3 linked regions of the Homo sapiens genome follow. The protein of the gene in region 1 interacts with the protein of each later gene in a pairwise test. Each region holds a gene or a part of one and is shown in the gene's direction. Other genes may lie near its edges. The genes, in order: DAB1, TOLLIP and ZNF488.

Region 1 (3,750 bases):
CTGCTGGGGGTTTTCCACACCACTGCTCCCCTTCATTAGTGGGGATAATTGAGAGTTGACTGCAGTCGTTACTGCTGTTGTGATGGGTATTTGAAGCTAAATTCGGGCAAGTAGGAGATGTGTGAATATTTATCTCAGCTGCAGAAACTTAATGCAGTGTGGCATTAATTACCCTGTCTGAGCCTGCTGTCTTCTTCTGTTTTTAGGTGTCATTTTCAGTTGGATAAATTAGTTTCCAAAATTAGAATAGAGCAAATTGTAGGGTGAGATCAAGGCAGCCTGACTTCTTGGGGCATCCAAAAAGAAGAATGAGCTGAGAACATCTATCCAGGAAACATTAATATGCGTGCTTGAAGCCCAGCACAGGCAAAAGGAAATATTTTTCCCCAGTAGTTGTACTTAACTATTTTTGACTCCACCTACTGCACTTGTAGAACACAAACACACAATAAAGTTACATGTTTAGCCTTACAACATGTATTTGAAATAGTTCAAGAGACTGGAAAGGAATAGATTTGGTGTTTAATAAATCATAATCTTACTATAGATTTTGCTACATTTGATTTTGAGAGAATAAAGCCAAATTGGAGTGTATTTAGGACAAAGGGATCAGAACTGTGAGGAAACTAGAAACAGCATTATAATCATTCAGTAATTCAACAGACTCTCATTGAGGACCTACTGTGCTAGGTTCATATTTGTAAAATGGCAGAAGGAGGCCTGGCGCGGTGGCTCACACCTGTAATCTCAGCACTTTGGGAGGCCGAGGTGGGCGGATCACAAGGTCAGGAAATTGAGACCATCCTGGCTGACACAGTGAAACCCTGTCTGTACTAAAAAATATAAAAAATTAGCCGGGCGTGGTGGTGGGCACCTGTAGTCCCAGCTACACGGGAGGCTGAGGCAGGAGAATGGTGTGAACCTGGGAGGCCAAGCTTGCAGTGAGCCGACATCGCGCCACTGCACTCTAGCCTGGGCGACAGAGTGAGACTCCATCTCAAAAAAAAAAAAAAAAAAAAAGGCAGAAGGAACTGGCAAGTGGTAACCTAGAAGTAGGACATGGAAGAATGGGCTTCCGTACTTTTCTGTCATCAGACATTTGGACGAAGGATTGTACTTATTTACATTTCCAAGGGCAGTAGAAAGTCTACGGGCAGAAGGCATGGAGGGACAAGTTGGCACTTTGTTACACTGCATAATAGGGTGCCTCCAAGGAAAGAAGTTCCTTCCCACTGGAAGAATACAAACATAACAAGTTCTAGAGGAACCAGAAATTGGATCTGATGGCAGGAGTCTTGGGGTCTACTCTTGGCATGGATACTAAGTAACCCTGTGACTCTGAAGAAACAAAAGCTGTCTTCACAGGACTTCAGATTCCTCATCTGTACAATGATGGGCCAGTACAACCTTATCTTCTAGGCCATTCCACTTTACAGTAGAAAGCAAGCAATATGATATGCTACACACAAGAGACAGCACAATGACCTTGAGATCACACAACCTTTCAGAACTTCAGTTTTTATCTGCAAAGGGAGGACTCAAAAAATAAAAGCCACCCTCAGGACTATAAGGCAGATAAATAAGACATGAGGTGCTTTGTAAACTCTGAAGCACCAATGGATGGAAAGATTGGGGTCTCTCTCTCTCTGTCTCTCCCTCCTCATGGTCACTGTTGTAAAAGATTAGAAAAAGCACTGGCCCCTGGACCCTGTTTTCAGTTCTCATGTCTCTAGACTTACTAGCTGTGTGACCATGGGCAAATTATCTAACTTCTCTGTGCTTAATTTCACCCTTGCAAAAGAGATAAAGCATCTGCCTTACAAGGCTGTTGTGATGAGATAAAAAGACAATGTACTTGAAAATACCTAGCATGGTGCCAGACACATGGTAGGGGCTCCCAGAATGCCAATTCATTTTGAAGTTTCAAGAAAAAAGCAAATAATAAGAACCTATATGACAAGGCAGGGGACAAGCTAATATATCAAATATGGTAAAATTAGGATTTCATTGTGCCCGTTTAATTCTGGCACAGACCTCCAAGAGTGACAGCATAAAGGTCAATTTTAACAGAAGGTCCTGTGCATGCTTAAAACCACAGTATCCATCAAATCTGCTTGGCCAAGGCACAATGAGCCATCTCAACATCAGCTGAAGTCTGACGGGGTTTAAATAGGGCCGAACGCTGTTTCCTATCTAGGTGTGGATTGCAGGTTTGCTGCATTACATGCTGGTTGAAAATCCCTGTATGTGTTTCAGGACAGCCCCCTGGGTGCAGGCAAATGACTGGCCAAAGTGGAGGGCTCAGACTGAATGGAAACAAGTCCAGAAGTTTGTGATTAAGAGACAAAGACACACTTGCTGTTTCTCTGGCTCAACAGTGCACCCAGGCATCACTATTTGTAGAAGAGCAATTTGAAATAGAATTTCAGGGTTCTCAAGTGGACATTTATGAAACTGTGTTGGAAAAATGTCCACTTGTCTCATGGTAATTGTTAGCAATTTCTGAAGATGTATTGCTAGCAAGCATTGTGCTAGATACTTTATATGTGTAATCTCTAATTCCCTCAAGAACCCCGTAGGATAAACAGTACTATTCCCATTTTGTGGTTGGAGAAACCAAGACTCAGGATAAGTATCTTGTCCACATGACACAGCTTTTCTAACTCTCCCTACTATACCATGCTACTTCCCTAACAGGGCAATCAGTTCCAACTTGAAAACGAAAGACAGAACTGAGTGCATAGCTATTTTGGATAATAAAAATGTTGCCAAAATGTTATGCACCCTGATCAAATACTCCAAAAATAACCTAAGGTCATCCATCATAAACTGTCACTTTTCTGTTTTAATCCTAAACCCCTTTTCCCAAAGCTGTCTCAGAAAATCCATGCAAGTGTAAAGAGCAGGCCTCACTTTGTTCCTTTATCCACAGGAGCCAGAGCCTCTGTACGCGCAGATCAACAGACCTAAGAAATAGCATCGATGCGAGCTCGTGGTGGGTGCTCAAGACTGGCATGGACATCAGCATCACGACAGGCTCTCTTGTATTCTTTCACCTCTTCCCACAAGAAATTCATGATTGCCCAATGGAACTCGCTCAGAAGAGGGAACTAAGCATTTTTGGCAACCAATGGCAGATATCTATGGCAGCACACAAAAAAAGTATAGAAAGATCCACCCAACATTAAATCAGAAATCAAGCAAATGCTTACCCAACAAATATTTGAGCCCTCATAGCTGGGTTTAAGATGACTCAGTGTGCAAAATTATTAATTCCCTTTTTATTTCTCTACCTGTTGACCACTGTTGAGACACCAAATTTGGAGTGACAGGCATCAGAGGATTACAACAGGGTTGGAACTGACTTCTTTAAGCAAAAGCAAAGGGTCTTCTGTGACCACAATATCGTCATCCATATGCCTTTTCACATAGGATGATGTGTTTTTTGTCACTCCATGGGGCCTGGTCTGCCATTTTCCCCCCTTTCCTTTTTTTGTCATGTTTGAAAATTAATAGGTGTACAAATTTTTGTATTGCTTTTGACTTTTTTTAGATATGGGTGAAGAAATCTAACTGGGGAGAAAAAAAGCCTCAGTGAAATGAATTAACTTGAAATTACAAGACAAATAAGTGGTTGATTATTCATTATGATCACGAATGTTGCCAAAACAGTCCTTTAGCTATTCTGCATCCTGGTGAAGAAAGACAGCTTTCAGTACGAACCTTCATTCTGTGAGTAGGAAAAGACAT
Region 2 (3,750 bases), on another chromosome or scaffold:
AGTATGTGCATCTTGTACATGGAAGCAAAATTCTAGAAAAATATCCATTATGTATCGGGAGTAATCATTTTTGTTTTCATATTTCCAAGCCTTTGAACCAGGGTAAAGCATATATTTTTATGTGACCATTGAAATAGTTCCTCCATCATCATATGGCAAAAATAAATTTTAGGATTAGCACTGAATTTAAAAAATAAATTCAAAATAGACATTTACTGAAGGACCGAGTGTCGTCACTGAAACGATAGGGTTTACTTCAGCACCTGGACTCTCTCCCCTGTGACTCGTGAAGCATGAACTGGTAGCACTCCCTCCTCGTTTGAAGGGCTTTGCTCTAAGTTGAGAAACGAGGGCATTGCAGCAGCAGGCAAGCCGCCTCTCCCTGGTAGGCGGGGCAGCAGGTTGCGTAACCAGTATTTGTACGGGGAGGACTGAAGCCTGGTCTCCGTCTCCTCTCTTGCTCTTCCTGTCTTCAGGTTAAATGGAATATTTTTCTGAAAAACCTTGAATTTTGTAGTGTTCAGTCTTATGACGAATTGAAAAGCTGGCACGAAGAGGTCCTGTGTGTCTCACCCATGTCCCCTGGCCGACGCTCCCCTCCCCGGGAACAGCTCTCACAGCTGTGGCGCTGAGCTGGGGGCATGACTGTTGGCTCCAGGTTTTATTTGGCTGTCCTGGTTTTTCGATGACTGTCCCCTGCTGTCCCAGCACCCTGCCTTGCGTTTAGCCATCATGTCTGCCATCTCCAATCTGGGACCGTCTCTCAGGCTTTCCTTGTGTTTTTGGGACCTTGACGGTTTGAGGACGACTGACTGGTCAGGGATTTTGTCAGATGTCTCTTAATTGGGGTGTGGGTTTTTGGGAAGAAAACCCAGATGTGAGGCGTGTGTCATCTCGGGGAGCTGGACGCGCACCTGCCCCGCCACATGGCGCTGGCTGCGGTCCCCGGGCTGCGTGGGGCTGATGAGCTCCATCCGCAGGGAGCTGCTTCTCCCCTTTTCGTGTTCTATCCACACGGTTTATGTTTAAAAACCCTCTTTTCCTATTTGCCATTTTATGGTTAAATCCTTGTTGAAAAATGACACTTGATCATTAGGCCTTTGGATATAATTTTATTTTCTCCCAGTAATGAGCAGTCCCACTGTCTTTAACGGACACCTAAAGAGTGCAGAGCAAGGAGATGGAGCGCTGGACGCCTTCAAATACCGGGACAACCAGGATCCAGAGCAGCGAGGGACCCACAGTGCTCCCTCAGAGGCCTCTGGACCCCACGCCCACACGTCCCTGTGACCACCCACACCCTCCCCCGACTGGCTTCTCCATGCTGCTGTCTCCGGGACATGAGTCGCCTGTCTGTCCCCCACGTGTGGCCAGGAGGGCATGAGCCACCTGTCTGTCCCCTACGTGTGCCCAGGAGGGCACGAGCCGCCTGTCTGTCTGCCATGTGTGCCCAGGAGATACGGTGCTTTTCCTGCCATGTCCTCAGAGCTGTGCATGTGGCACACAGGAAGCAGTTGTCACAAATAAACAGGAATTTGGCCTGTGTATGTTAGTCCTGAGAACTTGGTTAGCACGAGTCTGTTTCTGCAAGATAACCCGTTCCTGGTGAGCAGACAGAGCTAGTCATAGAGCCTGCTGGCATGGGCTGTGCCAGGGCCCTGTGGGGTTGGCAGGGAAGCACGTCCTGTGTGGCCAGGTGTCCCCCGGGGAGAGAGCTCTGGGCTGTGAATCCTTCTGGGAGGCAGGCGAAGGGCCCTGGCCTTCTGTACCCCAGTGTTTCCTGTGTGCCAACAGGAACAGGTGCTTAGCATCTCGTGCCATGGGGCCTCTCAGCGCCCTCCTGAGCCAGAGCTTGCTGTTGAGCTGTACAGCGCCTCGAGAGAGGCTGCCTGGGGGAGGCTGGCCTGGGACTCCTGGCATGGGCCCACTCCGCTCAGGCACCTCTGCACCCTCCTCGATTGTCCGTAAGGGCAGGGGGTCCCTCCGGGCCCTGGCCTATGCCACACCCTCCGGAGGTGAAGCCGGGGTGCTCTGCTTGTTCTCGCAGTACGGCTTCTCTCACAGGGCAAAGGTCACTCGTGACGTGTCCCAGTCAAAAACGGGGTAAAGTGTGGGGAAACGCACAAAGTGTGTTTTGCTTTTTAGAGAAGAGCGGTTGAGCACACGCCATGCTGGCTGCTCAGGTTGGGGTGCAGCCTGCAGAGAGCTTCCCGAACTTGGGGGTCCTGAGTCCGTAACTGCTCGAAGCGGTGCCTGGATCGTCCGGGTCCCTTCTGTTTACTCACATTGGTTGTGGAGCGCTGACTGGCTTGTGCGCTCCAGGCCTTAGATGGGGACACAGGTGAGGAGCTAGACCCTCTCGGGGTCCTTTGAAGTGCCAGGCGCCCAGAGCACAGCAGGTGCAGGGCTTAACTCAGAACCTCCTGGAGCCCTGCCTGGCACCGTGTCATTGGGAGTCCATGGCACAGGCAGGTACGGGTTTCTGGTGTGCATGGCAGAGGCGTTCTGGCGGCCTCAGCACGTGCACTTTGCCTAAGCTCACGTCCGACACACCGAGGGTTCCAGGTTCCACTCGGTATTTCCTGAAAACAACTGCCCAGGGCACTGGCGCTGACCGGGGCCCCTGCAGACGGCTGGGTCTCCACCCCACTCCACCAGCAACCAGGCCTCCACCCCACTCCACCAGCAACCAGGCCTCCACCCCACTCCACCAGCAACCAGGCCTCCACCCCACTCCACCAGCAACCAGGCCTCCACCCCACTCCACCAGCAACCAGGCCTCCACCCCACTCCACCAGCAACCAGGCCTCCACCCCACTCCACCAGCAACCAGGCCTCCACCCCACTCCACCAGCAACCAGGCCTCCACCCCACTCCTCCATCAACCAGGCCTCCACCCCACTCCACCAGCAACCAGGCCTCCACCCCACTCCACCAGCAACCAGGCCTCCACCCCACTCCTCCAGCAACCAGGCCTCCACCCCACTCCACCAGCAACCAGGCCTCCACCCCACTCCACCAGCAACCAGGCCTCCATCCCACTCCTCCAGCAACCAGGCCTCCACCAGCAACCAGGCCTCCACCCCACTCCACCAGCAACCAGGCCTCCACCCCACTCCTCCAGCAACCAGGCCTCCACCCCACTCCACCAGCAGCCAGACCCATGCTCAGGGCCTCATCAGCGACCTTTCACCTGTGGAGCATGGTTTACCCCAGGCCCCTTCGGCCGCTGCAGGTGTGCGGGTGGTTTCGGGATGGCATTGTCCTGCCTGGGCCCATCCTCTCTCTTCCCCTCAGAAGTGGCAGTGGTGGACAGAGGGTCGAGGAGACATAGGATGCAGAGTGGGGAGGTCTTTCGTGGTTGTTTGGAATCGATTTACTTCCTGCGTTCTTCTGGGATACTTTTGAATTTCAGCTGTTTCATGTGGAAACATTTGAAGTATATCAGCAGAGGGTTTTCCAAATCACTTTAGACCTGAGGCTCAGCTTTTGTCTCATTCGTTTGACCAAGTGACCTGCAGTTCAGTGGCCCTGCCTTTAGCTGTGGACAAGGAGAAAGAAGCCGTGGGCACACATGGTGCAAGGGAGACCCTTTAAAATGACCTGAAAACCCACCTGAGCAGGCTTTGAGGACAGGAACCCATTTTTAGCGGCAGAAACCTGCATTTGGGGATCTCCTGAGTGAGGGCTGCACCTGTACCGCTGGGGGCCAGGCCCCAGGCTGGACACCCTTGACCCCTCCGTTTAGAG
Region 3 (3,750 bases), on another chromosome or scaffold:
CCAGAGCTGCCCAAGGCCGTGGGAGTCCACATCTTGCACCAGCATGACCTGGGTGTGAGACATGGAGTCAAAGGAGGTCATTTTGGAACTTTAAGGTTTAATGACTGCCCTATTGGGTTTCAAACTTGCATGGGGCCTGTAGTCCCTTTGTTTTGGTCAATTTCTCCCATTTGGAATGGGTGTATTTACACAATGCCTGTACTTGCATTATATCTAGGAAATAACTTTCTTTTGATTTTACAGGTTCATGGGTGGAAAGGACTTGCCTTGTCTCAGATGAGACTTTGAACTTGGACTTTTGGGTTAATGATGGAATTAGTTAAGACGTTGGCAGACTGTTCGAAAGGCATGATTGTGTTTTGAAATATGAGGACATGAGATTTGAGAAGGACCAGGGGTGGAATAATATGGCCTGCCTCTGTTTCCCCACCCAAATCTCATCTTGAATTATAGTCCTTATTGTAATGCCCATATGTAGGGGGAGGGACTTACTGGGAGGTGATTGAATCATGGCGGTGGTTGCCCTGTGCTGTTCTCATGATAGTGAGTGAGTTCTCAGGCAATCTAATGGGTTTGTGAGGGGCTTTTACCCCCTTCACTCTGCACTTCTCTCATTCTTCTCCTTCCAGCCACCCTGTGAAGAAGGACCTGTTTTGCTTCCACTTCCACCATGATTGTAAGTTTCCCGAGGCCTCTGCATCCATGCTGAACTGTGAGTCAATTAAACCTCTTTCCTTTATAAATTACCCAGTCTCAGGCAATTCTTTATAGCAGTGTGAGAATGGATTAATACAGTCTAAAATAGATCTTTCTTTATATAACTTAAAAATTACAAGTGATGAAAAGCATTTGAGTTGGTTGGTTGTCAGTTTTTTCCCCCTCTTTTGGAGCTGTATTTAGTATAATAGAATATCTTAAATTAGTGGTCTTTTATAATAAATGAAATTGGGTGTACTTCGCCCCAGCATATTAGGGTTCCCTTGCTTCATGCCTTCCATGACAGTTGGTATTATTATATTTTAACATTTATGCCTAATGATTAAACATCTCCTTGTGGTCTTAATTTGCATTTTCTAATTACTCTAGAGACTTCGTCCTTTCACATGATTTTGGTCGTTAGTGGTTCCTCTTTGAAGTGCCTATTCATGTCTGTGTCCATTCGTTGCTTTGGGTGTTCCTCTCTTTCACACTAATTCATTAAAAGTATATATCCTGGATACTAATCCTTTATCAATTGCTGCAAGTATCTTCTTTCAGTGTGTGGCTTGCTTTTTCACTCCGTTTGTTGTTTTTTAATCAAAGTATAAGTTCTTAATTTTAACGCACTTTAACTGTCATTTTCCACCATGGCCCGAGTCGCGGAGTCCGCCTTCCTGGCAGAGCGTTGCGTGGTCACAGCTGAGGTCTGGGGAGCAGAGGCGGCGGGCGCTCCCGGGGGGAGCTGGGCGATTCCGGCGGGGGGAGGTGCCGATCGAGCGGCCGCCAGGCTGCTGGGGGAAGGAGGGCCAGGAGGCCGTGGGGGTCCTCGGCGCAGACTGGAGCCGCAGGCACCGCGCGCAGCCCTCGCCCGCATCGCCGAGGCCCCGCGGGCCCAGGAGCGAGAGGTCGGGCGCCCAGGACCAGAGGGCGTAGGCGAGAGCAGGCACCGCCTCCAAAGAACGCCCTCGCCCTCCCGCAGGCGATGGCGCCCGGCCCTGACCAAGCCAGCTGGGGGCATCTCCGCGGAGCTGAGCCGGGGAAGGGCCGGGCAGCCCAGAGGGTCAGAAGGGGGTTTTCTCCCGGGGTTGTGAGTTCTTTGGCCAGCGGCACCCTCCCCTGCCGGGGCCGCCCACCCGCAAGCCCCGCCCCGAAGGCTGGAGCTTCCCTGGGGGTGGGCGACGCCGAGACCACGCCCCGAAGGCGGGAGCGGCTTGGGGGCGGGATCTGGCCGCCCTCAGGGCTCCGGCGCCAAGTTCAGAGCCACGCGCAGTGCTCTTGGCCGGGAGGAGGCTGTGCTGCACCAGCACCTCTTGCTCCACATCTCCAGAGAGCCCAGGTGAGGCGCACCCTCCTGTCTGCAGGGACAGAGCCGCGAGCGGGCGCGGGCGGCGGGGTCCATCTCACTTCCACATCAGCCTTTCCCCAGGACAGGGTTGTTGAGTCCTGCCTTTGACTGTGGGGTCCTTTCCTTCCCAATGTCGCCAGCTTCCTCTCTCTCCCACGTCGTCTCCGAGTCCCATCCCCGTTTCTGTTCCCTTTCTCTTCTCTCACTTTTTCTCCTCTATCTCTTCTTTATTGTCTTCCTGTTTTCATTTTCTTCTGTGTCAGTCTCTCTCCCTCTCTCTTTTCCTCTCTTTGTTTATTCTTCTCCCCTACCTTCTCCCTCTCCCCCCTGTTTTTTCAGCACTCAAGAATTCTGCCTATGAATTTTTCTCCTAGGGTGACTTTCAGGCTGCAGTTGTTTTCCTCCCTCCCACTGTCTCTCCCGGGGTTTATCCTGTGTTGCTGTTATTCTCAGCCCGGGCTTGCGCTGGGCAGTAGGGTAAGAACCATGCATCAGCCCCAGATCCTTTCTCCAACAGATTATATCCAAAGATCTGGACATGTATCCTGTTCACTGCCTTTCCTGGGAAACAAAACAATACCAAATGATCACATTATAATGAGTTTTTAGAATGAGCTAAAAGAACATACCTGGTTTTAGAGACAAGGGGTTGATTGAATCCTTTCCTTGACATTTTGCCTTTACTAATAGACACAGACAGCACAGCAGGAAGCTAAGCCTTGCAGAAGCATTTAGGGGGCGTTCCCACCCACACCTGCCTTCTGGGCAGGCTATGCAATGCCAGGTGCAGGGGAGGGAGGGGACAGGATTCAGAGCAGGGTTGTAGGAAGACAGTGGGAGGCCAGGGCTTTGAAACATTTGAGGGAGCCTGGAAATAAGAAATTAACAGTAAATTTCTAAAATATGTAGTTGCCAATGCCACTGATGTACAGAAATGAAATTAATTACTCCTGAGGGAGACATTAGACATTTTATGGCAGTAATTATGGCATTTGAAAGTAATGATTTTATGTACATTAGATAGGAGGGCCAAGGGGAAAATATTTCCTGTTAGTATCAAAGATTGTCGTAGATGCATAAGGGACGAACTCTAGAAAATCAAGTCTCATTCTTTTTGAGGGATAAAATAGAACTATATCGAGGCAATTTTTTGTTTCTTGGTTACAATGTAATCTTATCAGAGATATGTGATTTAGTTTTTAATGATATTTTATGACACATACATATTTATATGTTCAAACACACACAAATACATAATATATATGCACTAAGTTATAAAAGAGCCCTTGTTTGTTTGTAAAGATCTTAATTACCAATAAAGGTTGAAGCTTTCACTTCTTGGAAATAAGTTAACATGATATTGTAGTTTATTATGACCTTTAATGAAAATTCAACTAATTTACTTTTGATTGATACAGAAATGGAAATTTGGCCGTAGATAAATCACACAGAATTAAACAGAAATTAAGTATGATGAAGGTGCATTGCAGTGTGTTCAGTGAAAGAATTTGCATATGCTAGATATTTTGGACAAATTCATAGGTATGTGCATGGAACTGTGATTTGTGAGGCTTTTTTCTGGTTTAAAAAGTTAAATTGCCTTTATATCTAATCCCTGATCCCCAACATATGCGGATTCTGGGGGGAGGGATAAAAGACTTTGCAAATGATTTAGAATCATCGTGTCTGCTTTGCTTGGCAGATTT

What was found.
Region 2: the proteins of DAB1 (region 1) and TOLLIP interact in binary tests that used the Homo sapiens proteins (3 or more experiments, as listed by UniProt).
Region 3: the proteins of DAB1 (region 1) and ZNF488 interact in binary tests that used the Homo sapiens proteins (3 or more experiments, as listed by UniProt).

What each region holds. Positions count from the first base shown.
Region 1 is NC_000001.11:56,997,311-57,001,060, reverse strand, and holds part of DAB1 (disabled homolog 1), read left to right. Parts: intron 1-2,913; exon of another isoform or gene 2,914-2,932; 3' UTR 2,933-3,750. UniProt on the Homo sapiens protein: Signaling adapter of the reelin-mediated signaling pathway, which regulates the migration and differentiation of postmitotic neurons during brain development.
Region 2 is NC_000011.10:1,295,941-1,299,690, reverse strand, and holds part of TOLLIP (toll-interacting protein), read left to right. Parts: intron 1-1,126; exon of another isoform or gene 1,127-3,163; coding exon of another isoform or gene 3,164-3,235; intron 3,236-3,750. UniProt on the Homo sapiens protein: Component of the signaling pathway of IL-1 and Toll-like receptors. Inhibits cell activation by microbial products. Recruits IRAK1 to the IL-1 receptor complex. Inhibits IRAK1 phosphorylation and kinase activity.
Region 3 is NC_000010.11:47,382,505-47,386,254, reverse strand, and holds the start of ZNF488 (zinc finger protein 488), read left to right. Parts: upstream 1-1,961; 5' UTR 1,962-2,035; intron 2,036-2,418; exon of another isoform or gene 2,419-2,521; intron 2,522-3,750. UniProt on the Homo sapiens protein: Transcriptional repressor. Plays a role in oligodendrocyte differentiation, together with OLIG2. Mediates Notch signaling-activated formation of oligodendrocyte precursors.